Linked DNA regions of Homo sapiens: regions 1, 2 and 4 are each linked to region 3. The links come from fine-mapping of genetic effects on gene expression. A gene starts in region 3. Each other region holds a variant in brackets. All regions are shown on one strand. Distances are between the middles of the regions.

Region 1 (6,301 bases), 790 kb before region 3:
CAAGCATGGAAAAGGCAAAGTTAGTATGTAAAAATGGTACTAAGTGAATAACTCCAGCTGCTTTTCCTGGCCCCAAGGCAAATAGTCATCTATAAAAATATTACTTTAACAGTATTTTTTACTACTTTTATCCAGAAGGAAACAAAAAACCCTTCACATATTATGAAATAATATAAATCTGTTTTAAAATCTTAGGAAGTTCAATTTAAATATAGTTATGTGCCACATAATGACATTTTAGTCAATGATGGACTGCATATATGGTAGCATTTTCATTGATTATAATACCATATTTTTGCTATACCTTTTCTATGTTTAGATGCACAGGTACTTACACTTGTGTTACAAGTGCCTACGGTATTTAGAACAGTAACATGCTATACAGGTTTGTGGCCTAAGAGCAACAGGCTATACTGTATAGCCTAGGTGTATAGTAGGTATACCATCTAGGTTTGTGTACATGTGCTATATAATGTTTGCACAATGACAAAAAGGCCTAAGGACTCATTTCTCATAATGATCTCCTGCATTTAGTGATGCGTGACTGTACTTATGTGTAGAAATACACACATACACATCCTTAAATTGTAAACAAAACTCCTTAGTGTAAAAAAATAATGAACTGGTTAAATAAATCAATCCTGGCAAATCCATAGGATGGAATACCATGCAGCCAATTAAAATCACACCTTCAATGATTACTTAGTGATATAGGAAAATACTTGTAGCAAGTGAAATGGAAGATATAAAACTTTATATGCTGTTTCAATTTTGGAATAAAAATTTATGCATATAGAAAATATGGGTAGGAAATACATTACCATCCCAAGAATTTACTGACTCTTGATAATGAGATCATGCCTGTTTTCTTTTACTTTTCTGCATTTTCCAAATATTTTACGAGTGCATAATGCTTAAGTCAGCTGTGTGTGTGTGTGTGTGTGTGTGTGTGTGTGGTTCTGATCTAATACAGCTTGTATGTGTAGCTTAAAGTGTGTACATTTACAAAACATAGAACTGATAGTAAGTTGAGTCAATTGCTATGGGTAGTGTCACCCGAAACAGAAAAATTCTATTTAAATTCCAAGTAAATACTTGATAACAATTGGAAACCTAAAGAAGAGGGCATTTGTATGAAGTGTTTTCTAAACTTAAACTAGTAGAGAAAACCATGACTAGAGAGCAGCCCATGGAGGTTTTATTTTGGTATTCCAAGACACACACAAAAAATGTTGAATGTTTTAAACTTTCAAATACACACATTTGTCTTTAGTTCAAAGCCATACCTAGAGGAACCCTCAAAATACTTTTCATCTTCAAGTTTCGTTCTTTCATAATTGAAAGCTCTGAAGAATAAAAATATGTTTTGTTTTTGCTACATCTAATGTTACTCTTCTTTACTTGGAGAACAAAACATTAAATGTAGAGTAAAGTAAATGTAAAGTATGGCAACCACCAAACAGCTCTCAATTTTCTCCTCTAAAAAAAAAACATGGGAATTGTTCTTAAACAGGAAGCTGTTTCTCCTTGTTAGTATTCCATGCCCACGCATTACCCTGGTTCTGTGGAACTCCAGAGGCAACAAAGTCAACTTGCTATTTTAAAATACATGCATAAAATAAGCAAAATACACACATGTAAAAAAAAACGCATGAAAAATAACTTATTGAGGAAGGAACTTATAAACCTCAAAATATAGTTAAAACATCATACTCCTGCCAATAATAAATAATCCGTAATTTGAATAAAATAATTCATAATAAACAGTGACTGTGTATGTGTGTAAATTATCTCTAATGTACACCCTATGGATGTTTAATGAACACCAAAGTCATTAGTAATTCCCACTCCAGGGCAGTTAGCATCAGAAGATCATAATCAAGAGTCCACACTACAGAGATGGTTGTGTCATGCACTTCAAATATCACCATTATTTCTGTACAACAGGGTGAGTTAATTCGCGTAAGTAATGTTAAAAACAATCTTTGATAAAAATGAGTGGTATTTAAGAGAGGCGGTTTCCCAGAAAAATGATACAGGTATCTCTACGTTCCATGAACGAGAGTCCAGCAGCCCAATAGTCAAATAGCACACTAGGTCTCGAGTTTGCTTTAGCTGTGTGGCCCCCTTAACTGAGGACACCATCACCTGAGCAGAGCAGAAGGCTTTCTGATCCTACCACTATAATACTGTTGCATCTTCTAGGGAGTGAAGTTTTCCTTAAAGCTAATTGTTGGAGTAGCTTTTCCTTAAAGCTAATTGTTGAATTGAGTAGGAATTAACAAGTTGTTGACTAACTGCACTTGCATACTGATAAATGTATGGCAGTATTCAGATTATAACTTGTTTTCATTTTTAAAATGGGGAAGAGATCTATATCTTCCACTTATCCTCAATTTCTAGAAAGTACCAATATTTCTTTTGAAAGCCTGACGACTATAAAACTCAGCCCATGGGTCACCTTCTTGGTCAAGCTTTCTCTTTATGCCTCAAGTTGAAAAGACTACTTCTTACTTTATACCTCCCACTGTATCTGGTATTGTGTTTATTCTATCTTATTGCAGAGGGTTGATTTTTAAAAAAATGTTTGTCTTCCCCACTGATTTTGTGTTTCTTTACACATTGAAGTGTGGACTAGGGACCATGTAAACTTCATGGTAACTTCCTGCAACTTTCTAAGACAGGGTTTGTTAATATGTGTGGCTATGAATTTGACAGCAGCTCTGTGTTAAACATAAGGAAGGTGTGGGAGGATAAAAGTAGTAAGAAATTAGTATCACTAGAAATTCCTGAGAATGTCTCAAATCCTTTCCCATGGGCCTTCTTATCATTGGCACACCATTCAGGGATGCATACTTCTTAAGACTGCATTCTTGTGCAACTACCACAGGAGCCCAGCTCGGCAGGTGTGCCTGAAAATCACTTGGTTGGGCCACATCTGGAAAACACAGGCAATAACTTCATAAATATGTGAACACAACTCTTCTGAGCTATGACAACCCCACGAGCCATGTTTCCATGGGGGATAAATAGATTTGTAGCAATATTAATAAGCAAGATGTAGTCATCCGGGACAATTTGAAAGCAAACCTGCTACTAATGCATATTTCCTACAGTAATATTTTTCCCTACAACCTAGTTTTAACCTTGCTGTTCCAATAAGACCCCGTAAATCGAAGTTTCTTTAGCCCGTTAATTTAATATGAATATTCTATACCAAAGATAATATTGAGGAATACTGCTGAGAAAGCTGCAGAGCTGGAGAATGAACACTGCTTCTAGAATGTCTTATGTTATATAAGCTTCATTCTATAAATATGTTTGGCAGAAGTGTCATTCTGCATTAATTTTGCTACAATATGTGTTATTCTGAGGATCTGCAATAGTGGTGGCTTACAGATCCACTATATCAAAATTTCCATATTGACAGTTACAAGGGAGAAAATCTTAACGCCAAATAAACTGTTAAAAAAGATATAGTTTGGTGGTTACATA[T/G]GCAGTCTTATTTTAAATCTAATTAATTATTTTAAGAGACTGAAAATAAGTCTTTCCTGTTCTAAAGCTTTGACTTGTTTTTCATTTATTGTTCTGTTAGTCTAAAAAGGGAAACCTAACATTTTCTAACTGATGGACAGCAGTGAATTCCTTTTTACTGAAACACCCACACTTAAAACTTCTTGGCAGTTTTTAAGGTAGTGCTGGGTTAGGAAGAAGATGAGACTATGTCAACTTTACTAAGATGAACATCTGGCTTCTAGAGCCACCAAATGAAGGCAAAAATATAGGAGCTGAAAAATATTTTGTCATACAAAAGTTTTCCAGTGAAGAAATCTAATGGACAGAGAGTCTAGAAGCTTTAAGATATTTTAAATAATTCTATTTAATACTTCTATCTAATAAGAAAAACAGACTTTAAATTTTGTGTTTTTACATATGTGACCAAATATAAAACTTAAAGAAAAGAGTGTATTAAACAAAATATAGGAAATAGAATATATCAAACAATTCAGAATTTTGTCTTCAACTTAAGGAACATGTATTTAGCATCTATGTCATTATTGGAAGAAGTGCTGGGATATAAAGATGCTGATAATCTCTTATGATGCACGTATTCATCATCGTTTACTTCTGTTGTAAGTTAGTGAATGATTTTATTCTCATTGCTGTAGCATTACTATTACCACCAGAATTTAGCTTCTTTTTCAATGTAAAAATAAACTAAAATAGAGCAAACTTATTTTTATTCCTCCATATTTCAGAAAGCTCTAGGACAGCTGCTCTTAAATTTTAGTGTATACAATAATTACTTGGACAAGAGAACCTTACTGAGAAGAATAAGGATGGAACCAAAGAAATTACATTTTAAAATAAGGTAAGCAGAGGATAGAAACACAGGTGCTTTAAGAACCATCATTTTAGATATGTGGCCCTAGAACTGTAACAGCATCTATTTTTTTTTCCAAATACTATTCAGCTATAAGTGGTGTGTTGGAAAATGTTTAACACTTTGGTTTCAGTGTGGTGAAGCTGATTTGTAGTGTCTGCCTATTTTGTGGTGCAAATTCTCTCACCATGGCCAAAATCAAGTCATCGGGTTAAAATGATTGAACATCCAGCTGGGAAGTGGTGCTCAGTGTTATACCATTTTGTCCACCATGTAGAGTAGTAAAATGCAGTAACATGAATAGAAAGCGAAGTCTTGAGGATTTATTACCTTTAATTATAAGTAACGATTTTATAAAATTTGACTTTTAATCATGGCTACATTTTAACAATCAATCAAAAAACTGAAAACTTAATAACCATCTCCCAGAAGTCAATACAAACCAGTCCCAGCACAAACTGGCCATAAGAGTCATTTTATTTTGTCCACTTTACAACAGTCTGATATATAAGTAACAAATAAAGGAAGAGATTCTACTAGTTATTCTTATAGCTTTTGTTATAAGCAAATAAAATGAAATCAAAGTTATTTTTATATGCAATGAGTGTAAATAATTGTCTTTTCATTCAAACATCTTCTATACCTGAAAAATATAGTAAGTTATCAAAAAATACCAATGGAGGCAAAGCAAATTTGGGTCAGCAGGCACTGTTCTTACTAAATTTGAACAATGGAGGTTTAGTTATCGAGAAAAACATGACTTGAACTGAGGTCTGGCAGGGGGAGAAAGGCATTTCTGACTCAGGGGAATTTTTGGTGATGTGCTACTGTGTGTAGCTAGTTCTTAAACTCCAAACAGCATGTGTAGCAAAACAGTCTACAATGCACAGATTTGTGGTATTTCTAGGAACAGACAGATGGCTTATCTAGTACTTCCCAACTTTTACGGTAAGCAAGGAAAAACTATTTAAGAGGGGTGTTATCACCTTGCAGGGCCCTAGGACACCGCAGCATATTCTACCAGGGATTAACTAAAATTACCCAGGTTAAAAGAGTTAATATTTATTTTCCTGGCAGGATCTTACTCAGCCATCCATGTGCCATGCTGATAACAATTGTTACTATTGTAATAGTAAGGAAAATACAGGAGTAAAGTTCCTAGGGAACTGCCTAACTAGGAAGTTAGTAAAGGATCTGGACTCTGAATTTGATTTAAAGAAAGAGGAAAACACACGTTGGCTATAAAAGAAATAAATGAAATAACCATTGCTACAACCTTTTTAGCACGGGTACTGTCACGAACATATCTTCTAATGTTAATTAAATAAAATATTTTATTTTTCTACCTTTTGTACTGTCTTTAAAATCATCTTTGACACATGAGTTATTTATGTGGCTCGCTTAGGTAAGAATCTCTTGAGGAAGAGCTGAGATATCCTGGTTCCTTTTTCTGCTTCATTATGATTTGAATGCTTGCACCAAAGCTTCAAAAACAAGGTTGATCCAAATTGGTATTCAGGAAATTAAGTGTACTGTTCAATTCCTATAATTGAATTAGAAGCTGACTCTCTGGATTAGTTCTCTATATACTAGATAGAAAAAGGTTTTTGTGTTAAAAAAAACAAACTGTTACGGTTTACACTGGTGCTGAAAAGAAAGTTGAGAATTCACCACTGGCAAGCATATTACTTGAAAATAAGATTTTCTCAAAGTCTCTATATTTCTGCAAATATTCTAGAGCTAATTCCCACATATAAACTGAGAGTACATTCAGAGGTAAATTTTCAAACTCTATTGATTCTATTGTTTCAGGCTCCTCTCACCTCTCATCTCACAACTCTTCGAACACACAACCCTGCTTGCCTGATCTCTCTGCCTCGCTATTACCCCTTCCCCACGTTGCCAACTCACCTCTAT
Region 2 (6,301 bases), 160 kb before region 3:
TTGGAAAGGAATCACTTCATTCTTAAGGTCCCAACACCCTAAAAATAAAGTTTATTCTAAATTTTCACATTTGTCAAAGACAATAATATCAAGCAGTAGCCCACAATTCCCTAAAGGAATGATGTCAATTGGTATTTCTTAAATTAATTCAGTGACCTACAGTAATGTGAGTTCTTGGTACATAATGTCTGTCAGTAGGCAATACAAAAATTTCAGAATCACTTCTGGTGTCTGAACTCCAAAATGCAACCCAAAAAATGTGTCTAAAGTAGTTCCTTAATTCCTACTTCACCTTGCATCTGTTACTTATAGCAACGTCAGAAAAATAAAAATTACACCAGGTGTAGATTGCTAGAACTACAGTTCTACAAATTAAATACAGTACAAATTTAACCAAGACTTCTGGTAACATACAATCAGTTATCTTTCTGAGCTAAGACATTACAAGTCTGTAACTCCTTTTACCGACTATGGTTTAGTGAGTTTCACATGTGCTTACACAGCTCATTTTTAGTTACTTACTAGACAATGTGCAATGGTGTACTTTTATAAAAATTTCAAAGGTCTCAAGAAATGGAAATACTCAAATTTAAAGGATTTATCTGTTATCTCTGAACTCTCTTTCTCTGCTTTTACTGCTCCCAAGTATACAGGCACCACGAACACAGAGACCAGCTAAAAGTTCAGGAACAGAAAATTCCAACTACATCATCTTAACAAATAACCCCACACATTATAGTTTAAAAATAGCATATTTGAAAAAAATGCACTAAAAATTATTATTAGAACTTCACACTCAAATCTCTAAAAAGTTATGAACATTTTATATTGTAATACACATAAATTCTAAAGAATATCAAAGTATAATATCAGAGAAACAATATGTGTAAGATTATAAAAGATTAGAGTATTATCTGTTTGGATTTTTACATGAATTATTTATGCACTTAAAAACATAGTTGAAGTGAGGAGAAACATAAATGATAACCTAATCACATTCTCTGAGTTTCCCTCCTAGGTCACTGGCTGCTCCTTCTCATTTTCCTGACTCCCATTATTCCTAACCTCTAAGTGTTGGACTACCCTAGGAGGGGTATAGGACTTTTGTCTTTCTCTATTCACTGTCTAGGTCACAGGTCAGTAAACTCTACCTGCAGACCAAATGTAGCTTACCACCTATTAATTTTTATAAATAAAGTTTTATTGGAACGCAGCCACACCCATTTTCTTAATTATTGTCTACAGCTCCTTTCACAATACAAGGTAAAAATTGAATAGCTGCAACAAGGACTAGATAGTGCTTCTGATCCTTTACAGAAGAAAAATTGCCAATCTCTGTCTAGGTGATCTCACTAAGGTGCATAGCTTTAAATATAATGTATATCCTGAAAATTACCCAAATTCTATCTTCAGTCCTGACTCAGATATGAATGACAACTTCTCTACATTATATTTGGATGTCTTATAGGCATACAAATTTAACATGTCTAAAAGGTAAAATTTGCTTTCTACCACCCCTGCCACTCCTTTGCCTCTTGTATCTCAATACACAATTTCCATTCATCCAATTGCTTAGGCCAAAAACTTCAGAATCCTCCTTGATTCCTCTATTTCTCTCATACTCCATATCCCAGCCATCAAAAAAGTACATCTTTAAAATATATCCAGAATCTGGCCACTTCTCAGCCACTCCAATGCTACCACCCTAACTCAAGTCACAACCATTTTCACCTGGACTATTGTAGTAGCCTCCTTACTGGGTCCCTATTTCTGTTCTTGGTCCCTTACACTCAATTTTTACAGAGCATCTAGAGTGATCATGGAATTCCATTACTGAAAACACTTCAAAAGCCATGCAAGGTGTGGCCTCTTGTTATATTCTACCTTTCCTCCCTCTTACTGACTCTGGTCACTCCCCACATGGTCTTTTACTGTCAAGCATGGTCCTGCCTTAGATCTTTGCATTTGCTCTTCTGTCTGGAAAAGTTTCCCCCAACTTATCTAGGTGGTTTAATTCCTCATTTTATTCAGGTCTCTGATCAAAGATTACCTCAAGTTAGAGGTCTTCCTTAATCACTCTCTCTAAATTAGTGACTCCTATCAATTCTATATCCCTGTTAATAGGTGGATTCCCTAGAAAACAGGCTCTAAGATTCTGGGATTTGCATGCATTTTGGGGAGTGCCCTTAGGAACAACATCTGAAAGGGAGTGAAGGAAGCAGGACAGGCAGAGAAAGAAGCTGAATTGCAGTGTGGTTCTAACAGAGGTTTAAGCCACAGGAACCTCTGCAGTGGGTATAGTTTTTGAAAATTATCCCACATGAGGAAAAGAGACAGGGTCTTTGAGCCGACATATACATAATGAAATTCCCAGTATCCCCAGAGTTGGGGTGTAACCTTGAGTAAGACACATAAATATGTGTTTTAGGGAAATGCAAATTAAATCCAAAATAAGATACTACTTTACACACACTAGGATAGCTAAAATCAAAAAAGATAAAAAATAACAAATGTTGGTGAGGTTGTGGGGAAAATAGAACCCTCATACACTGCTCATGGGAATGTAACATGGTACACACAGCAGCTCCGGAAAACAGGTTTGGCAGTCTCTTCAAAAGTTAAACATAAATATATCACACAACTCAGCAATACCATACCTAGAAATCTGCCTAAGAGACATGAAAACATATATCTACGGAAAGAATTATAAAAGCATATTCATGGTATTATTCATAATACCTAAAAGCAACACAACATAAAAGTCTAGCAAATGGTGTGTGGATTAACAAAATGAGGTGCATCTAAACAAAAAATAATATTCAGCAAAAAAAAGAACAAAATACAGATACATACTGTAACATGGATGAACCTCAGAAACATTACACTCAGGGAAAGAAGCCAACACAAAAGACCATTTATTGTGTGATTCTTTTTAAATGAAATATCCAGAAGGGGAAAATCAATAGAAATACAAAATAGATTACTGGTTGCCTGGAGGTAGGGGTAAGAAATAACAGTAAGTGCAAATGGCCATGGGGAGTATTTTCAGGATGATTAAAACATTCCAAAATTGGATTACAGTGATGGCTGTACAACCCTATACATTCACTATATCATCAATTTCTATACTTAGCATGAGTGAATTTTATGAAATGTAAATTACATATAAATAAAGACATAAAAAAGAAAAATAAATATTACTGGCTGATTCTTAAATTGACTAATAATAATGGTGACAATAACTACTACTCACTGAAAATTTGCTTAGGTTCAAGAATTGTTCTGAGTGCTTCATTTGTATTAACTCATTTAATCTTCAACACAATCCTACGAAGCAGGAACTATTTTATTCCTATTTCAGAGATGAGATAACTCAGGCATGGGAAAATTAAATAGCATGCTCAAGGTCATAGAACTAAATATATATTAATTAACTTATAAAAATAAAACATTCTACCTTAAATGCTAAGCAACAGCACTTATCTAAAACAAACCAAAAAAGTAGAAGATAATACCATATGTGTACATACATGGTAAGTTCCCTGTAAGTAGCGTATTTAAGATTTTCCAATAAGTGACCAACTTGCAACACTTCTGATTATCTGTATAGCCATTGAAACAAGTAATAAGTATAATATTTATTATAAGACAGCTTGGCCAGTACTTGGTGCATATTCAGTGAGAGACTTAATTACTGTAGACAAATATAAAGAATGCTCATGATCTAATCTACTGAATCACTATGTTCATACAGACACAGAAATATCACTATGGGTACACATAAATACAACTTTATTCTGCAACAGTCACGCATAAACACACACACAAACTCTAAGTCACACAATCTCTATAATAAAGATTTTTCTAGTGCATCAT[A/G]TCACAGAACTGCAAGCATATCATTTTGTTCCTGTAACTGAAATGTACAATGGGACAAGATGAGATGACAGTGTGTTTTATCTTTTTCATATGAAAGTTCAGTAATAAATTTCACATGGCAGTAAGCCAATATGAATGAAATACTTGGAGATACTAACTTCTCATGTATCTACCAATAAAACACTCTCAAATTTACAGATACCCCTAGAAAAGACAGCTGATAACCACATTGTATGTAGTTAATATTTTTTTTAAATATGAAGGCATATAAATGATCAGCAAGCCTGACATTTAGATATTTGACAACAATGTATTTTAAGCAGTCTAATAAAACACAAAGCACAGATGTAGAGGAAGGAAGATATGTAACTAAAACCACATTCACCTTCAATTCCTTTGCAGACTAGCACTGAAAAACCTACATCAGCACTTTCTGTCTAGATGATATATTGATACAAAGCTAGAATAAAAATGGTGATAAAAAGTACCATTTGTAATTGAAAATAAATGTTGCTAAGTGCTGACAAGCTTCTGTCAGTTAAATTGTTTTTATTTAGAAATATTTTGCATTTCCTCTATTATTCTTAAGAAACTTTGTAATTAATTTTTGTTCCAAATAATGTTTTTGTGTATTGATTACACAAACTAGTAATATTTACATTTAAGACATCCATTTAAAGTTGAAGAAACCATTTCATAATAGAAAGCCAATTCCTACCCTTAATTCTCTTAAAATTTAACGTCCACCTAGAAAGCAATGCATCAGTAATAAATTTATGATTCAATATGGTTATCAGCCCACAGCTAAAAATTTGCAGATCTGTATAACCAAGCATATTAAAAGTCCCCATGGATAACATATAACCATGAGTAACTCTCATAATTCAACATGCACTACAGTAAGAACCATTACAACTGCATGTTTTCATTGTTAGGTCCCAATCCATTTTTAAAAGAAGCTGTACATGTACATCACCAACTTGCACATACATGCAAGTAAAATTAAATTACCTAAAGGGTATCTTCTGAAAAACCTGAGAGTTTTTTTTAAGACATCAGTATAACCTTGGTTAAATAATCTTATGGTCTCTATATAAAGATTTGAAATTTCTGAAAATAAAAACATACAGTAACATAAAGCTTGCTTCTAAGAGTAGCCAGATTCAATATTCAGATTTAGAAAAATTACATTCATTAAATTTAAGTGAAACAAATAATTATGCTGAACTTCTACAGGATTGCCCTCAAAATCCTATACATAACTAGAAAAGTGGACAAAATATATAAAGCTATTTCAGATAGTGGACCAATGGCAGAAGAGGCATGTGATTATTAACAAAAGGGAAACAAATCAGGTGATATCTAAGACTGCCCCTATTCCAACCTAGATGCAAAGTCCAAACTGTGGTATAAGAATGGGGAACTCAGAGCCTCATGGTCCAAATAAGTTGAGAAACAGATTAGAGTTTGAAGACACTGGGATGGCTGGAATTTGTGGGACATATTAAAGATAAAAAGAACGCTATGCAGAGATTGGCATAAGAATACTCATGAGGCTTTGAATAGGAATCTGTGCTGCATAGGGTGAAACTCCAAGCAGCCAAGTGAAAAATAGCAGGAAAAGATCAATTTCAGGGGAGTTATAAAGTGAACAATTCCAAGAATGAAGAGCCCTTGTTGTTGAATACCCAGAGTATTCTGTAGAGACTCCAGAAAGCTCATGCCTTAGTAGTGAGTCTAAACTAGCTCTAAAGATTACCCTAGATCATCCTTGAAAAGCACAAAAATAGCCTTGAAATGAGCAGGCTGATCTGCAAATAATTTAAATGCCTACCAAAAAAGTGGAGGGTGGTGGGGAGAGAGACCATTTAAAAGAAAAACCAAAATGTAATTAGTACTACATTAGTAACCAAAAAGAAAAACCAATGTAAATTAGTATGTACATTGTTCAAATTCAGCTGAACAATGTAAATACTAATATTCAATGCCTAACAGTGAAAAAAAAAATTAGAGACAGACAAATAAAAGGGAGGAAAATGTTGCCCACAACTAGGAGAAAAATCAGTCAATAAAAACAGATCCAATTAACAAAGATAACAAAATTAACATTAAAAGGCCTTAAAACAGCTATTAAAATAAGTTCAATAAGATTAAAGACTTAAAGGAAATATGAACATAACGAGAAGACAAAGAGAACATATTGAGAATCACCAAATTAAGTGTCTAAATATTTAAAAATATTTTTGATACGAAAATGTTGCAGATAAGACACTACAGAAAATATCAGTGAAGCTGGAAACATAGCAACATAAATTATTTTAAACAAAGTATGAAGGAAGAAAATATTTTAAAAATAAACAGTCTTGGTAACATGTGAGGGCAACAACAATCTAACATTTTTATAATTCAAGCACTAAAATAAGAG
Region 3 (6,301 bases):
CTCATGTCCAAAAGACTGTAAAAGTCATGCTACTTCTACATGAAGTTGTGGGGTGGAGTGAGGAGGGGTGGTAAATAGCCAAGAAGAAGGAGAAAAAGAAAGAAATTTACAATTTTATCAAATAACAGTGAAATATATATATATAAAACATGTATTATGTTCCACATATGTTCCATATATAATACGCAGTTAAGATGTATACATGTTTAACATATACTTAAGCTGCATATTTAGTATGTGTATATATGGAACAAAAAGTTGAAGAAACAAGTATCAAATTGTTAAGTGGTCATCTGAAAGTGGACTCATAGGAAACTCACTTATTGCCTTTTATACCCTCCCAGATTTAATTCTAAATAACTTTTTTTTGACTTTTTATTACTCTTATAACCAGAAAAAGACAAAGAACTATTCTAGCTTAGATCTTTTAAATGAGGCTAAATGCACAGAAACCCATGCAAGTTAAAAATGGTCTACTTTCGAATTTATTTTTCTAAGTACATCATCCTTTACACTCTCCATGATTCCTAATATTAGGTCCTTCTTATGGAACAACTACAAAAGTTATCCTCATCTAATTATTATACTCGTACACTGGAAAATGACTATAACATTATTCATTATAGGAAACAAATCATCAAGGTCAGCCATCCTTGTAAGTTTATTACTGAAAGTACTAGAAAGGCGGAATAATAATTCTGTTCTCCCACAACACTGTATAGACCTGCAAACCACTATGATCAGTAGTACAGGGAAAGTCTTGTAAATTAACATGTAACTATTGAGAAAATCCACAAAACTGGTGAAAGGCCTACCCCAAAACAGCCATCTCCAATACAATCTCATCATTCTCACCATCCTACTTTTATCAAAGTGCTGATAAAAGTGCGTAGCACATGGTAAGAGAGAATTAGCTATTGAATCAATGAAGGAACCCATTATCAATAAACAATCACTTCCTGTTTTCCATAAATTATGTGGTCACCTATCACTTGAGCACAAACAAATAGGCACGTTCAGGACACAGGCAGCCAGTATCAGAATAGGCAGCCTATCACAGAGGGCAATTCTACTTTTCCTGTGTAAGAATCCAAGAATGCAGTTTTACTACATTCCTGCTTGTAGCTAATCTGAATTTCAACTAATTTAAAACGGTTATTTATATGTGACATATAGGATGCATAATGAGCTCCCAACCTTGTGAGAGGAGCTGTGTTTCATTTCACCATACAGGGGAGAGGGAAGCAGTGTATTAAAGAAGTGATAGAAAAGTCCCACAGAAGAACCAATGAAATAGACCACACTGAAAATCACAGTAAGCCTCAGAGAACTTCAGTGTCCTTTTTGGCAACTTTTCAAAAGTGAATGGAATGCTTGCCAGGAGGTACCAAGAGTGAAAGCCCAGAGAAAAAGGCCCAGCCTGGTCATCTCTCTCCCCTCAAAACATCTTCTTCTGTAAGCTTGAGAGATCCCAAAGAACTTCAACACTTGTAATCTTGTTACTAACTTTATGCTTTGGGGTCCTAAAGGATTTTTTCAGGAGTACCCTTTTAAAATGTAAACATCCCTAGGGGGGTTACTGTTCATTATCAAACAGGACCTGGATTCTTTAGTGCTATGGTCTCAGGGATTAGTCAAAGCTGGCTAATAAGATAGGGGCCGGAGACAGACAACTAGAGAGGACCAATGTTCCAAGGTAAAAACAGGTAAAGGGGAAGTGCAGTTTTCTGTCGGGTCAAGGGGCTAAAAGGGATCCACATGCCCAAGCTGTTAAACTCTATAGACTGTGTGAGGCTGAAAACAGTCCGGGGCCTGGAGCCTGTGACTTTGAAGGTGGGTCCTCCAGTTCCCGATGAAAAGGTAGAATCTGGGCCCAAGTTCCCCACGAGCAGTTCTGGACATCTAGCCCTTCTCTCTCTCGCTCGCTCTCAGGATAAAGTCCTAGGTCCTTCCACCCCTGACCATTCCTTACTTACCCTTTCTCCCGCTCTTCCTCGGTGAGAAGGGGTAAGTGGTTATTTTGTGCCCTCGCCCAATTTGGCCAAAACCCTAAAAGTAAAAAACGACAGACAGACACGTGCTTTAAAATCATGTTGTTCAAGCCTGACGCTCTCCCACCACCTGCCCAACACTTCCAGGCAGAAGGCAGCGCGCCCCCACAGCGCTCCCTCACGGCCAGAGCCGGGGGCCGGACTAGGCCCCTTTGTGAGGACTGGGAGAGGGCGCGTTGTTGGGGCGCCGGCTCGGCGGGGAGGAGCGGGCCAGCTCCGGGCCAGGTGTGCCGCCTGTGGCGCCGGTTTCTCAACCTAGTTAGCCAGTGGCACCAAGAAGAGGACTAGGCTGGGGTGGCCGCCGCACGCGCCTCAGATAAACACGCGCACGCACACATGCTCGCGATCACGCAGGACTCGCGGCCGCGCACCCCTCCGCCTCCCGGCAACGCCCGCCCCGCCGGGGCCGGGGCCGACTCCCAGGGAAGGGTCCCCAGCCCAAGAGACCACCAAGGGTCGGCGGCTACGCGCCCGCCGACCCCTGCCAGCCTCACAGCCCCCCACCCGCCGCCGGACGCCGGGCGCCCGCCCTCCGCACCCGCTGCGCAGCTCAGCCCGGGGGAAGTCCCCGCGCAGACCCCGCCCTCCGCCGGCGGCAAGCTCCGCCCCGCTGCCCCGTCGCGCGCTGGCCGCCCGAAGCTCCGCCCCCGGCGGAAAACTGGTCTCTGGACCGCCCGCCCAGGTCGGGCTCAAAATGCGGCGTGGATCTGAAAGGATCAAACACAACACTAATTCAGCAAGCTATTATTGAGCACTTGCCCTAAGCTCAGCAACGTACTAATGGGGGAGACTACAATAAAGAGCCGAAAAGTCTATGAAACTGTGTCTTCAGCTCTTCCTCTTGTTTTAGAAGCCAGGAAACAGAGAACCCTCACAGTTACTTAAGTACAGGGCAGTAGTGGCAAAGCACCTCACTAGCGATCTCTGGGCAACTCTTCATTTCATTTTTTCCTACTCATGAGCACTCAGGAAAACTATTCAGTTTTGCTGCCTCCAGGTAAAACAAAGTGAGTAACACAGGACAGGCGGTTTACTTGAGAGAAACGGGAATTTCATACTGAAGCTTTTGCCCTCAAATGGTACAAACTCTTTTTTTTTTTTTCCTGAGACGGAGTCTCGCTCTGTCGCCAGAGCGACACTGCAATCTCCGCCTCCCGGGTTCACGCCATTCTCCTGCCTCAGCCTCCCTAGTAGCCGGGACTACAGGCCCCCGCCACCATGCCCGGCTAATCTTCTTGTATTTTTAGTAGAGATGGGATTTCACCGTGTTAGCAAAGATGGTCTCCATCTCCTGACCTCGTGATCCGCTCACCTAGGCCTCCCAAAGTGCTAGGATTACAGGCGTGAGCCACTGCGCCCGGCCGAATGGTACAAACTCTTAACTGGGTTATTACAACCTACAAAGAAACCTTCTTATCCATGTTATTAATTATCCTAATTCAATGTGGTTTAAAATGTTGATGAAAGTACCCAAATCATGGTGCTCCAACAAGCTGGATGCCAACCAGGTACTCGTAAGTACTTGCAATTACAGGTGCGATATTTTCATTCCATATCATCCCAAGATGCCCTTCCTTCACGTGAAGCAGCCAGAAAGATCAACTACCAGATTCCGCATGATTGAGGAATTGATAAATAGAAAGGGAAGACCGAAACCGGCCAAATTTTCCCTTCGAAGTGAAACTTGAGAAACTTGCGTGCATTTTACCTGAGTTCCTTTCTCAGCAGATAAACTGTCAGACCTCCCAGATAGTGTCAAGGAAATGCAACTTTCCAGAACACTACATCTGGACAATGAGGTGCATCTGCTGCCTGTTCACAAACTCCTCTTCCTTACCCCTCCATAATTCCCTGCTATAGAAAGCCCTAACTTTAGTCTCCCTAAGACATGTTTGAGACTGGTCTCCCTGCCAGCATCACCTGCATTAAAGCCTGTCTTCCCTGGCAATACTCGTTGTCTCAGGGACTGGTTTTCTTTGCTAGGAGCAACCCAACCTAGGCTGAAGCCCAGGCATTTAGCAGCAGTGGCACCTAGAAATACTGAACAGACATAAAATACTTTTTTTCTCCTTTTCTTACTCCTCCAGTTGTATCTTCATTATTTCTGTCTCTATTCTCCCTCTAGATACTGCCAAACTACTCTGTGCACTTTCAGATCACTTAATACTAATGTAAATAACAGACATTCTGGCACTCTTGGTTCAAAATTTATTCTAAAGGTTTAAGAATCTACTCAGGGTCTTAAATAGCCTGATAACTAAAATTCCAAGAGTTTCCTAAAGAGAGCAAAATTGCTCTCCTGTGAAGGGGATATGTCCCAGTTTTTCTTACTTGTCACTGAAATAATTACTGCAAAGTAAGCTCTTTTCGGCCAGTGCTTAAGGACTTAATTTCAAGAGCACTTAGGTGACAGGACCACCCTCATCAAATAGCAGTCAAGAACTATTTGGTACCATGACCCCAAATTGAATGGAGCTCCTGGTCACTAGGAACTGACAGTCTGGGATGGAATGTAGGTGAATAAACAACAAAGACAGGTGTTTATGGCCTTTATTGTATTGGGAAGTCAATAAACATACAAAAAGAGTTGCTAGGTCTGGCCTGATTTTATCACTAAGATTCATCAAGTGTACTTAAAAAGAAGCTAATATCTGGAAAGGGCAGAACTATGGTATATTAGTCAGGGTTTCCTAGAGGGACAGAACCAATAGGATAGACATATAAATATAAAGAGGAGTTTATTAAGTATTAACTTACATGATGACAAAGTCCCACAATAGGCTGTCTGCAAGCTTGAGGAGCAAGAGAGCCAGTCCGAGTCTCAAAATTGAAGAACTTTGAATCCGATGTTTGAGGGCAGTAAGCGTCCAGCACAGGAGAAAGCTGTAGGCTGAGAGACTAGGCCAGTCTCTCCTTTTCATGTTTTTCTGCCTGCTTTATATTCACTGGCAGCTTATTAGATGGTGCCCACCCAATTAAAGGTGGGTCTGCCTTTCCCAGCCCACTGACTCAAATGTTAATCTCCTTGGCAACACCCTCATAGACACACCCAGGATCAATACTTTCTATCCTTCAATACATTCAAGCTGACACTCAGTATTAACCATCACATATGGAGACAGTAAAAAGATCAGTGATTGCCAGAGGTCACAGAGGAGGGGGATATGAAGCACAGATTTTTAGGGCAGTGAAACTATTCTGTATGATATGATAATGGTGATGCATGTCATTATACATTTGTCCAAACCCATAAAATATACAACCCAAAGAGGGAGCCTTAATATAAAATCTCAACTTTGGGTGATAATGATGTCAATGTAAGTTCATCAATTGTAACAAATATACTGCTCTGGTACAGGATATTCATAGTCAGGGAGGCTGTGCAGATGTGGGGTACAGGAATATATAGGAACCCTATACTTCCTGCTCAATTTTGCTCTGAACCTGAAACTGATCTTTGGGAGAAAAAAGTTTATGAGAAAAAGAAGCAGCAGTTAGAGCATCCTATTTTATTCTAATTTATCAATTAAATTCTAAGCTGAATATTTGGCTTTATGTATCTAGTTCAAATATATTTGCCTTGTCTCCTTATATATTAAAGCAGACCTCTATTTGTTGTTAATACCATCAGGGGAAAATGAATCATAAAGTCCTAACTAAGGTACAAATTTAAACTATAGTTAGGCATCAAATCTAATGGTCAAAGAGATATTTAAACAAAGTTAAAATAATTAAGTTTACAGATTCCACAAATATAGATATTAAAATATATTCCTATCTATACATACTTACCATTGGTAAGCAAATAATAGAAGGTATCATAGAGTAGCAGTTCTCAAACTACTTTTTGATCTCAAGTTCTCTTTACATTCTTAAAAATGATTGAGAACTTTAAAGAGCTGTTGTTTATGTGGGTTATATATGTCCATATTTACTGTATTAAAATTTAAGATAGAAAAATGTTAGACATGTGTTTGCTTAATTTAAACCCATTACATGTTACTGTAAAAGTTATTTTTATAAATAATGACTACTTTTTTTCCAAAAAATTAGAGAAAAGTGGCATTTTTAACATTTTATAAATCTCTTATTATCTGGCTTAAGGAGAGCACTGGATTCTCATATTCTGCCTCTGCATTCAGGCTGTTGTGATATGTTGTTATACCTAAGATATGAAGAAAATTAACTGTCATACGAATTCATAGTTGAAAAAGAGAGGACCTTACAAAGCTCCGGGAAGGGTTTCAGTA
Region 4 (6,301 bases), 350 kb before region 3:
CGGAGAGCTATCCAACGTGGGTCTCCTCGGAGCTGTTCTGTTGCTCAATAAAGTTCCTCTTTGCCTTGTTCATGTGACAGTCCTACAAATGTACCCCCTGTATCTAAGATAAAAGGTGATTTAAAAAAATAAGACCCAAGTCACATGAATAGTGAAGAGCTATAAGTATTCATACATTTCTAATGTAAAATATATGATGGTTAACTTTGGTAAACTTGAGGGTAGAAATATATTTTTAATACACAATAAATCAATTAAATAGGCAGGTAATGATTTTATCTTGAAAAAAATTATAAAACTTCATCATCTGTTCCCTTTTACTATCCAGTCCCTTCCAAGGGTATCTTCTCTTGCTTATTTAGAAAATCTGTGTGAAACACTCAAAACAAATTTCATGTTTATATCTTACTAAAATTAGAGAAATAAAATCAATCACTTTGAGTCCTTCTATGCTTTAATTAAATGTATCCTCTTAGCAAATTTGTTTTTAATCCAGTGAATGAATGACAAAGTAATTTTTCTTCTTTTTTTTTTTTTTTTTTTTTTTTTTTGAGACAGGGTCTCTCACTCTGTCACCCAGGCTGGAGTGCAGTGGCATGATCTCTGCTCACTACAACCTCCGCCTCCTGGGTTCAAGTGATTCTCCTGCCTCGGCCTCCCTAGTAGCTGGAATTACAGGCACCTGCCACCAAATCTGTTTTTTTTTTTTTTTTTTTTTTTAATGTAGTAGAGACAGGGTTTCAACACGTTGGCCAGGCTGGTCTCAAACTTCTGACCTCAGGTGATCCACCTGCCTCAGCCTCCCAAAGTGCAGGGATTACAGGTGTGAGCCACCATGCCTGGCCAATTTTTTTTCAAATTTATGTTAAATCTCACCTAAATAAAATATATGATATTAAGAATGTTCAGCATCTTGTTCAACATTTAAACAAACTCTAGTACATACTGTGTAGATTATCCAGAGCTCCATAACCATGTAAAAAAAAAAAAGAGAGAGAGATAGAGATTAAAGTAGAACATTCAAAATACAGCCACAGGCCAGATCTGGCTCAAAGACTTGTTTTGTTTGACACATACCAGCGCAGCAAAATTGTTTTCTGATGAAATGCTTACATGTATAAATGAAAAACTTCACAGAAAAACTCCAAACTTAAGTCTCCTCCTTAGAAAGAAAAACAAAAATCAAAAACCAGTTCTTGCAAAACTATGCCCTCATTCCCACATATCACCGCAATCTACATACTTTAAACTGTGAATTCAGATACCAGTTTGCCATAGTACCCATCACTCCTTATATTTACCATTGGTTAAAAGTGTCAATGGTTGCAACCACACAGAGACATTATATATGTACAAGAAAAAAACAAAAACAAAAATAGAAGTACTCTTTCCTAAGCACTGTAAGTACTTTCCAGATCATCTACATGAGCCATTCTATTCATTGGTGAGCCTCCCATGCATACTTATGATCATACCCTTCTGCCTGAAGAAGTGTCTTACTCAGAATCAAAAAGTTGCTAAGTAACAGTATTACACTCGAATCTGAATCTGACCCAAAATCCAATGTTTTTCCAGCTTCTGCACAGTTAATACAGCTAGCAAATAAGTAACAATTATTTTTCCCAAACAAGAATCATGAAGATATTCTAGCCTATTTGAATATAGCTACTTTTATATTACAAGATCAAATTTACTACACATAACAGGCAAAACATGGAAGGCACCCATTTAGTCTAATTTCAAAAAAGATATACATTCTCTCCTTCCTGAATTTTGTCTTATTTCTTTCAATAATAAAAGAAAGGTTAGATACAAAAAGTATCAGATCACCCACAAATAGGCACTTAAAAAAGAAAAGTATGTCAATCATTGGGTAAGCTTTAGAAGGAAACTGTGGCAAAACATTAATTTTCTCCTCTTTCAGAAACTTCTTTGCTCAAATTCTACTTTCATTCTTTCTAATATAAACCTGAGGCTGGCTCTTACACAAAACTGTTGAAGTCATTCTTTTGTTCCTTCTTCATTTCTCATCTGTAAATGTGCTCATCAACTTGTCAACCAGGCTGTTAGAATTTGTATTTAATCTTCACATTCCCTCTCAGCTAAAATTTTCTCCCATTCTTTAATCATTTCCTATCTTGATTACTATAATTTCTCTTTTATTGTCCTCTTGAAATTCATACTTGTTAAGTCATGTATGGCCAGAATATATACTAAAATAACATTTCCTTCCAACTGTCTTTCTCTTCACAAATACATCTTCATTCTCTCTTGGAAAATTCCAATTTGCCTTTGGATCATTCCAGATACCTCACCGTAATTATCTTCTCTGTCACTAGAGTATGGAGTCACATACATCACCAATTTTGTCATCTCACTTTCCTTTGAGGAGGTCCCAAGTAGATATTCATTGAGATAGTCTCTTCTCAAGAGCACTGTTTTAAAATGTTCCCTGTCAAGCTGGATAGCAAGAAACAGATGAAGGATTAACTATATCAGTATTTTATTTCTTTCCTAGAAAAAGAGGGAATAGTTCAAGATACATTCCACATCTTAAACTTGCTTTGAATTTTAGTTTTGGAATATATTTTTATCACAAATTGTCAATTTATGACTGCATAAATTTATGGCGTACAAAGTGATGTTATGATTTATGAATACAATGTAGAATAATAAAGTCAAGCTTGTTAACACATCCATCACCTCAAATATTTCCATTGTTTTGTGGAGAGAACATCTGAAATTTATTCTCTTAGCAATTTTAAAATGTACAGTACTCTATTATTAATTATATTCACCACACTGTGCAATAGAACTAAAAAGAAATACCATATTCCTCCTGTCTACCTGAATTTTGTACCCTTAAAGTGGAATTTTCAAATAAATGGTTTCTCAGATTCTAACATTTTTGGCAAAAGATGAGACATCCAATTATATCATATGAGGCACTAACAAATGCAAATAGACTACCCATATAATCAAAAGAATAACATTTAAGGCAATAAGCCCTTCAACTTCAGAAGGCTTGGCTTTATGACTATATTCAGTCAATCACATAACCATTTTGAAGTCTTGCAGTGGATAAAATAACACCTTTGAAGGGTGGGGGAAAAGAAAAAGAGACATTTTATCAAATGCATGCAAGTGATTTTGCCCATATAAATACTTGAAATAAAACCCTAAATGGCACATTTTAATTTTCCCTTTGGAATTTTCTGGAAAAAAAATTGCCAGTGTAAATTCTTATCAAAGACATTCCTCATCTTCTGATCTCTCTCTCTCTCCCTCC[GTC/G]TCTCTCTCTCTCTCTCTCTCTCTCTCTCACACACACACACACACACACACACACACACACAATATGCAGTGGAGTTAAAATGTTCCTGGTTAGGAATATTTTTCTCTGTTCTGCAATCTGTAGTAATTCTTTATCTTAAAGCTAGCTCTCCTTTTGGTGTTAGAATGGTGGCCAGGAGCCTAGCAGAATAGAAGGAGAATCAATTCAAGAAACTCTCCCAGTGAGAATAAAGGAAGACCTGTCCAGGGAGGCACCAGCACTACTCCTAATATCAGTCCGCTTAAGTGGGTACCTGACCCTTTTCACATGAAACAAGAAGTGGTAAGAAAGATGGTGTTCACCTTAGACTAATAAAGCCCACTCATGGAGCTTGGATTAGGGTCAGCTTCTCCTGAAGCATTTAGCCTACAGCAGAGCAGAGTAGCTACATGAAGAAACTAGGATATACTGTAAGCAAAGGAATAAAGGGATATCAATGCTGAGTACAGCTAATAACGTCCGTTGAGTCAGAAAGAGAATTGTGACAGAATTATCCAATCTCCTTTACTTTATCTTTTATAAACAATAACAAAACTAGTATATTTTATATTCTGATTAGAAGCAAATTACAATAGTTTCAGGTAATCCTTTACCTCAAAATTATGATACTAAACAATAATCAATATGAATGAAATTCTAATACAAGGAAGAAAAACTGCCTGACATGAAATAACTATCAATCATCTTCCCTATATATTCTAGAAATCTTATTTTTAATATAAAAATTAAGTTTAGTATTTTTGGCAAGATTAGATCTCTACTATGAATTGAAAGTCTTCGGTATCTCTCTGGAGGTGGGTGTTAGAATCAACAGGAGCAGTATTTTCATGTTCTTCACTTTTCTTTTCAAAATAATGAGCTACGGAAAATGCTATTGCCTTTTTGTGCTTTCATAAGAAGTAAAAATCAAAGGATTCTATGATGGACAGAAAATTTGAATCCTAAGGAAAATAATAAAATCTTCTCTCTTTATTCACTCTTTCCCTATATATGAATTGTTTAGCTTAGCATTTATGGTCTTAGTAAACAAATAGCAAAATATAAACAAGTGTCCCAAGTATCTGCTCTGTTCTGAAGTTTTCTTATGCAAGACATCACCAGACCTGGTAAACCAAGGTTTTACAAGTCTTACCAATTTCTGTGCACTTCCTTTTAAACTTTTCAATTCTTATAAATGTCATATTTCTTATGAAAATTAATGTCTTCCTCCTGAAAGAGCTGCAAATAAAGAATGCATGTACCTATGCTATTATGTTGTATCGCCTACATTTAATAAAACACAAGTGGAAACTTTCACCATATTTTCAAAAGTTTTATCAGTTTTTTTTTTCCCATTACAATGTTAAAGAGAAATGCACCAATAAACCCCAGGCAACGTAAATAAAACGTTCCCCATATGATCTTAAAAGAAATCACAGAAATATCCAAGGCTATACACTCAGCTAGATCTAAAATATTTTCGTTAACCTAAAGACAGTTGTGAAAGTCTCGAGATGGGAGAACTCCAATTAACCTAGTTCATTACCAATAAGGCTTTAATTCAGTCAGGTACTAAAATAGTTGTTTTTTCTGATTAATTATTTCAGGCTGACCAGTTATAGGCCAGGGCTACGTACATCAATGTCACTCACTTGGTTAGAAATGACATCAGTGGAAATTACTTTCCCCATGAACAGTTCTGATATCTGAGCCCCTGACTACAGCCAGTTATTACAAAAGTATAATAAATCTTGAAAATCAAGGGCCTGCCTCTTCTAATACAAAATAATAAATACTTTTCTTAAAATCCCAGAGTTCTGCTTAAAATATGAAATAACAAATACATCCACAACTTAGAATATCTATACAAGATCAAAATTCATCTATGTTGAGCCACTAAAACTTGTGAAGGAGTGAAAACAGGGCATGAAATAGAGGTATTAAGCTAGAAAGAAAAAGACTACGTGGCTAACAAAATCAACTATTGATGTATGTTATACTATTTGGGTTTAGCTGTTTAGCTGTTAACCATCACAAGTTATTTTTACATGGAAATTTCTAACTTACTCTACTTTGAAATGCCAAATTACTAAAAAATTTTAAAAGCCTCTTTTTGAAATCTAGAATAATGACCCAAATACAGTAAAGTCATAACTTTTTTTCTTTGTTTGAGGCACTATTTCTAAAAGTGTAATCCTAAGACCACCTGTGATGATCAATATGCTGATGTTCAGACTGTTCCCAAGACCTAATAAACCAGAATCTCTGGAAATAAGGCCTAGGACCCTAAATTTTAAACAAATAATGCAGGTATTAATATTTCTGCATTGGTTTGAGCTATTGTATTTGCCAGTGGATAAATTTTAAGTAAACAGGGCTAGCTAAACATAAAAATTAGCTCTAATGATATCATAAAATTAATTCACATATTATTCAAATTAAGTGAGTCTCTATTTTTGCTTACATATTTTATTATGATTTCTTAGGATGCATTATCTTATGAAATAATGAAATCACATCTAATTTAATATGGCTGTCTTTTTGCCTTAGCTGTCAGTATTCTATGATCTCAAATCACTGTTTGGTTGAATCAAATTCAACTGCAATAATTAAACAGTACCACTAATTTTTTTGGTCTATAAAACAAGAAATTAATCATGTTTTTTTACCTTTGTTAACCTGTTTCTATTGTGTTTAATCTGAAAAGCTTTTTCAATAAATTAATGGAAGTAAATGAGGTATCCATAAGCAAGAAAGTGATCTTAGAGTAGTGATAGAATGATTCAAGCAATGGGAATATTATTTTAACTTCTTTTATCAGAAGCCAATAAGTAGCTAGTGGAAAAAGAAATTTCACAAAATAAATTTGGAACCTAATTCTCAGACTACGAATTTATGCTCACACTATTTCTCCAAGCTCCACTATAGAATTATGTCACTTATCTACTAGGTTAGTGCAAAAGTAATTGCAATGTTTGCCATTTGAAACCT

Alleles and levels. Positions count from the first base shown, and alleles are read on the strand shown. Sizes are in standard deviations (SD) of each study's normalised expression. Not every link is listed here.
For the expression in monocytes of the gene that starts at base 2,618 in region 3, allele G in region 4 goes with a lower level than allele GTC (moderate effect, 0.52 SD a copy in CEDAR).

What was found. PIP is the estimated chance that this variant, and not a neighbour inherited with it, causes the effect.
Region 1: its variant is the best candidate, but not a certain one, in a credible set for the expression of IMMP2L in CD8 T cells (Kasela 2017, PIP 0.74).
Region 2: its variant is the best candidate, but not a certain one, in a credible set for the expression of IMMP2L in whole blood (INTERVAL, PIP 0.63).
Region 4: its variant is the best candidate, but not a certain one, in a credible set for the expression of IMMP2L in monocytes (CEDAR, PIP 0.86).

What each region holds. Positions count from the first base shown.
Region 1 is chr7:110,774,326-110,780,626 of GRCh38, forward strand. The region is part of intron 5 of IMMP2L (inner mitochondrial membrane peptidase subunit 2); the gene reads right to left. Among named protein-coding and RNA genes, the nearest start is that of LRRN3, 310 kb to the right of the region's middle. The variant T/G (reference allele first, on the strand shown) is at 3,496.
Region 2 is chr7:111,404,647-111,410,947 of GRCh38, forward strand. The region is part of intron 3 of IMMP2L (inner mitochondrial membrane peptidase subunit 2); the gene reads right to left. Among named protein-coding and RNA genes, the nearest start is that of IMMP2L, 150 kb to the right of the region's middle. The variant A/G (reference allele first, on the strand shown) is at 3,877.
Region 3 is chr7:111,559,875-111,566,175 of GRCh38, forward strand. It overlaps IMMP2L (inner mitochondrial membrane peptidase subunit 2), which reads right to left and starts at 2,618. Exons shown (of 6, transcript NM_032549.4): 1 at 1,977-2,618. RefSeq lists a silencer at 2,150-2,779.
Region 4 is chr7:111,213,808-111,220,108 of GRCh38, forward strand. The region is part of intron 3 of IMMP2L (inner mitochondrial membrane peptidase subunit 2); the gene reads right to left. It overlaps LOC124901725 (a long non-coding RNA gene), which reads right to left. Exons shown (of 2, transcript XR_007060477.1): 1 at 1-6,301. Among named protein-coding and RNA genes, the nearest start is that of LRRN3, 130 kb to the left of the region's middle. The variant GTC/G (reference allele first, on the strand shown) is at 3,290.